Linked DNA regions of Homo sapiens: region 1 is linked to region 2. The links come from fine-mapping of genetic effects on gene expression. A gene starts in region 2. The other region holds a variant in brackets. All regions are shown on one strand. Distances are from middle to middle. Region 1 overlaps C10orf88 (chromosome 10 open reading frame 88). Region 2 holds the start of BUB3 (BUB3 mitotic checkpoint protein).

Region 1 (2,919 bases), 220 kb after region 2:
CTTTCTTTGTAATATCCCAGAAGTCCCAACTAAAATGTCTTAGCAATAGGTGAATGGTTAAACTATGGTACCTCCATATCACGCAGTGCTGATGAGCAGTAAAAAACAACTTGGACATCTCTCAAAGGCATTTTGCTGAGTGACAAAAGAGAATCTCAAAAGGTCACATACTGTATGATCTCACTTTATAATATTTTCAAAATAATAAAACTGTAGAGATGAACAACATATTGATGGTTACCAGGTATTAGGGAAAGAAGACTTTAGGGGAGTAGGTATGACAATAGAGGGGTAGCAGGGAGGAGATCATTGCAGTTAAAGAATGGTTCTGCCTTTTGATTATGGTGGTGTTTAAATAAATATGTGTACATATGATAAAATGGCATAGAACTATACACACACATCATATTAATATCAATTTCCTGGTTTTGATATTGGATTATAGGTAGATAAGATGTGACCATTGGGAGGATTGGATAAAGGGCACTGAGAAACTAATATCTTTGCAACTTCCTGTGAATCCATAATTATTTCAAAATACAGAGTTTCTTAAAAACTGTCTTTGGTGTATTCTAGAGTAGTGGCTCTCAGACTTTTGGTCTTTACACTCTTAATTGAGGACTCCAATAAACTTATGTAGGCTACATAAAAATATTTGTTTAAAAATAACAATAAACCCACTGTATATTAACATAAATAACAGTCTTTATGAAAAAAAGCCAGATTTTCTTTTAAAATTTTATTGAGAATAGTATTATTTTAAATGTACATGAATCTATACATAATAGCTTTTGGCTGCATTATCATGTATATTGAATTATAGCATGTATAGTGAAATATAGCTAGTAAGAGCACAGTAGGAATACTGAGAACAGAGTGGATTAATCTCTGAAAAAGCATATATTTATACACTAAATCTCTACTACCTTGAAATTTTAGGAAAGAAGAATACACAACTACAGATTCTGTTAGTCATCAGGGCAATAACATAGATTTTGTAGCCTCTGGAAAATTCATGAGTATGAGGATGAGAAAGTCGAATAACATCTTAGTATAAACATACTTCTGACCTCAGTGAATTCCCAAAAGAATCATGGAGACCCCAAGGTTCTGTGGACCACATTCTGAGAGTTACTGTTCTTGTTTTGAGACGGAGTCTTATCACCCAGGCTGGAGTGCAGTTGCGCAATCTCAGCTCACTGCAGCCTCTGTCTCCCGGGTTCAAGCAATCCTCCCAGGTAGCTGGGACTACAGGCGCCCACCACCATACCCAGCTAATTTTTGTACTTTTAGTAAGAGACAAGAGTTTCACCATGTTGGCCAGGCTGGTCTCGAACTCCTGACCTCAAGTGATCCACTCACCTCAGCCTCCCAAAGTGCTGGGATTACAGGCGTGAGCCACCGTGCCTGCCCTGAGACTTACTGTTCTAATGTTCATTGTGAAC[G/A]TTAGAAATTGGTGTGCTTTTTATTTATTTTGTTAGTTTGCCCATTCTAGTTAAATTCTGAAGTGTTTTTATACCAGGTTAAAAAAAAGAACCTTCTAGTAGTTTAGTAAGGTTGTTTGTATGAAGGAAGAAAAACTTTATAGAGTTGGTTGGGGAAGTATTTGAAAATATGCATGTTGACTTTAGAAGAAAATTGGGCCAGATCAGTTTTGATTTGGACCTCAAAATCAAAAAGACCCTTTCTAAAGACTTGCTCTTTGAGGGTTCCTTTTCACTTTTACATTTCTGTTCAATTGTATACTAAAAAAGAATTAATAATGTGTTGGGCATTTAGGGCTGTGGTTGCCTATTGTGGATGTGTATTAGGACCTAGAAATGCATTGTAAGAAGACAGAGCACAGTTGTGGAGACAAATCTCAGCAATATATGTTGGCTGCTTGTTTTATAAGCTTGGTTGTTTTTGTTATTAGGGAAAATTTACACATTTTTAAAAATGTATTTTTAGAATGGAAGAGCAATCTATTTGCTCCTACTTGGAAAAGATTCTTTCTAAAAATATGGAACTGATGGAAAAGAAACTTATGGATTACATTGATCAGCGAATACATGAACTCCAGGAGCACATTGATGATAAGATTGCTTTGTTACTGGATTTGCTGCAAAATCCTAACTCCCCGCCCACTGGGATACCTCTAAGACATTATGACTCTGGAGAAAGACTTTCAAATGGAGAAAGATAAGCTCTCAACATAAACAGTGTACTGCAGATATTTATTACATATTTATTACAAAGCCAAAACCCAAAAATATTTATAAAAAGCAAGTATTTAATGTCCTTTGAGGGATCATTGTCTTACACAAAGTGACCTCAGTTTTCGTTTTTACTACACTTGTTATTTTAAATCCAGTACTGTACACTGAGTTAATATGATACAGTCAAATTATTTTTGCTCACGATATTTTTCAGTCTTACAGAAATGTATGTATATTTGTGTTAAGAGTTTAAAATGCTTGAGGATTTCTAATACAGTTCATTAGTTTGTATTGTATATGTGTTTAAGTATAATTTTTATTTATACAAAGATCTTATAGTCTTAGAAGTATGAAAAATAATGCTTAAGAGTATTTGATTTTTTTCTTTTTCTAATTATCTTGGAAAATTGGATACTTAAGACTTGGAGCCTTTACTTCAGATTACCAGTTTACATTTTGTATTGCTTGTGTGAGATAATGAATAAGATGTGATATTTGGCATGTGTAAACTTAGTTCACTCTGGGGTTGTTAATATTATTTGTTTCATTACAGAGTAGCTGTAGGTAGGAAAGTAAACATCAGAACTAGCCTAGTCCTTGTTACGATTAGTACTTTGGATTTGATTTTTCCTGTAAAACAGATGCAGTCATCTTGTTTGACCTCAGTAACCCCAGACAGTTTAAGAAAACCTCTCCTTTTGAGCTGATACAGGTTTTTTCC
Region 2 (2,910 bases):
AATAGTTTTGAACCGTTTAAAAACTAGAACTTTTGAAAGGGTTTCAACATTCTTATTTCTACAAGCAAGTGTTCAGTTTATGCTCGGGATATGCACTGGGCTCAACTATTCATGGTAAACAAACCAAAAAACAGCATAAAAAAGCAAGTGGTCACTAAACTCCTGTGTCTGGAAATTAAAGGAGGGCTGCTTTATCCTAGCCAACACGCTAGCTGAGGGTAAACATACATTTCCCCTAAACGGTTCCTTTCAATACGGCAGCCAAAACAGTATTGTTGCAAATATAATGATCGTATTTTCAGAAAGTTTAGAGTTACTCCACAAGCGTGTAACAGAAAAGGGGAGACGGAGTTTCCAATGTCTGCATGTCTCCAACCCAAAACGGTACAGGTTCAAGGCAGATGCTCCTGAAAAGCTAAAGAACTGTCCAAATAACCCCACCGACAGACGCCTCTACCCAACACTGGAAAAGAAACGCTCCTCACGTGGAGAATCGTTAACACAGTAAGAGGGCAGGAGCAGGGCGGGAGGGCACCTACGTAGAAGGCGCAGTCCAGGACGGCGCCGGTGTGCTGGTACTTGAGCCGCATGGAGTTGGCCGGCACATCGTAGAGACGCACGGACGTGTCCCAGGAGGAGACAAGCAGGAACTGGGAGGTGTTGGGGCTGAACTTCACGGAGGAGATGCCATCCTCGGGTGGCTGGTTCAGCTTGAACTCGTTAGAACCGGTCATCTGCAGAACAGGCGCCCAGAGTCCCCAGGGGTCCCGCGGGCTGGGGCTGCGCACTGACAGCCTGGCACTGGGGGTCCCCCCAGAGGGAGGGGCCGAGAGGACGACCGCGAGGAGACTCTGCGCTTGCGCCTGCGCCGAGCACTCGCCCGCCAAGGTCCGGACTCGCCCCATCATCCGGCCCCCGCCGCGCCCAAACCGGCCCAGCCCGCACCGCCGTCCCCCTAAACCCAGCCCGGCCCACAGCGATGCCCGGACCCCAGACTGTTCCCTTTCCCCTCTCCCGGGGTCCCGTCGCCCCGGGCACTCCTAAAAATAAAGGGAAAACAACAGAAACGAAACGGGATCCCCTGCGAATCGAACGGCCCTGCCAGTTGCGGACCCGGGAAGTCCCTGGAGAGCCCGCTCCCGCACACCGTCGCCTCGCCTCCCTACCTTGGGCTCCCCTCAGAAGCAACGTTTCCACTACTCGCCACTCGCTGCGGCCGCCGCCGCCTCCTTGCTTCCCTCAGAACACTCGCAGGCTAGGCGAAGGAGGCGGAGAGGAAGCTCCAGTGTAGACCTGCCATTGGCTGATTTCAAACGCCAACGTCTCAGTCTAGGGGGCCGATTGGTCCGCTCAGCTGCCCAGCATCGGTCAACCCAGTCATCCTGTTCCGGCTCAAAGGGAAACCGCTGCTTTTCCGATCACGTGGGCTCATTTTACCACCGCGCTGGGGCATCAGCGTTCGAGCTGGACGCGTGGAAACTACACCTCCCAAGGAGCATCGCGCCAAGGCTCTGTTCATGCCCTCTCCCGCCTGCGTATGGCATTCTGGGAAATGTAGTTTTCTAGGGGCTGACGCTCTGCCCGCCCTCTTCATAGAAAGCGGGAAAGATCTTTACAGCTCTGTCCATGGCGCCCTCCCCTTGAAGTTAGTCTCTGAAACACAAGAATCCCATTTTGGGCAATACTTATATAGTCCTAAAGTTGTCTCCCTATCCCTGGGCGTGCACACGCCCGTGAAGCTAACCAAAAGTTGATGTAGAGGAGGAAATATTTGCTCTATCAACTGCATTATTTTGCCTTGATTTTTTTTTTCTCATTTCTTGGGAATTTCCACCTATAAACCAGGGTCTCCCATTTCCCATTGTCTCAAGTTCTGCTGAAGAAACCCATTCATATTTATATTATGCTTTATCTCTCCACCCCATCTTTCCACAAACATTTATTGAGCCTCCACTGGCGCCAGGCCTGGTGAGAGGCTCTGGAAAGATGCATGTAATCAGACCAGCCTTTGCCCTTCAGGAACCCCCCTTCAGAAGGGTGAACAGCCTGGGAGACAGTACTCTGCAATGTGTTAAAGCTCCCACCACTTCTTTTAGAGCTCTTTTTTGAAGGGTCCTGAAACGACAGCTACAAGCCTCTCCCCTTCCACTCTGTCCTGCCACTCCCCAAAGTTGCAGGCTCAGTGTGCTCCATTTGCTGTTTTCTAGAATCCTCTAGAAATGAGGATCAAGAAGGTTGCTTGAGTATGAGAAATTATTTTATCTCCATGAAAGAAAAGCAATACTTAATCAGTAGAATGAAGTGACTGAGTTATTCTTGAATGTCAAAGGCTCACTGAAAAATTTCAATTTAATCCATGCTTTAACCGCTTTTTCACTGCCTTTTGTAAAAGAAAAATATATATCGTTTTATTTGATTTTGTGTGAAGTGAGAGAAAATTGTGGGGTTAAAGTGATTAACTTTTAAGGGACATTAATGAGAAAGTGTTGATGATCTTTATGCATTCACACACCCTGAATTGGATGCACCTCTTTCTGTGATTCCTGACACAAGAAACACACATACAACAACAACCTTTCTGCCTACTGCATTGATGACATTACTGCTGAAAGACTCTTGCCCTCCTTCCTTGCCAGTCCTGGTACTTGGTTCTCTATCTCTTCTCTTTCCACAAGTTAATGGCTGAATTCAAAATTTTGAAATGCAGTTCCTTACTTCCATTCTAACTTTAGCTAAATAATTTTACCTCCTGACTTATCTGGTTCCTTCTCCCAGTTGTTTATTTAATTATATTATTGTTCCAAGATTCTGAGCATGAATTACCCACTAATAAAATCTAAGTGTATTTCATTATCCAGTGTGTGTATGATTCAGGTCCCTCTGGGCATGCAGTTGCAGCCCGACTCGATT

The links. PIP is the estimated chance that this variant, and not a neighbour inherited with it, causes the effect.
Region 1: its variant is the best candidate, but not a certain one, in a credible set for the expression of BUB3 in esophagus mucosa (GTEx, PIP 0.70).

The regions. Positions count from the first base shown.
Region 1 is chr10:122,931,693-122,934,611 of GRCh38, reverse strand. C10orf88 (chromosome 10 open reading frame 88) reads left to right here. Exons shown (of 6, transcript NM_024942.4): 6 at 1,951-2,919. The coding sequence ends at 2,185. Among named protein-coding and RNA genes, the nearest start is that of C10orf88, 21 kb to the left of the region's middle. The variant G/A (reference allele first, on the strand shown) is at 1,446.
Region 2 is chr10:123,152,742-123,155,651 of GRCh38, reverse strand. It overlaps BUB3 (BUB3 mitotic checkpoint protein), which reads right to left and starts at 1,250. Exons shown (of 8, transcript NM_004725.4): 1 at 1,167-1,250; 2 at 540-734. The coding sequence starts at 734. RefSeq lists enhancers at 600-669, 1,400-1,559, 1,396-1,565, 1,285-1,579 and a cis regulatory region at 1,480.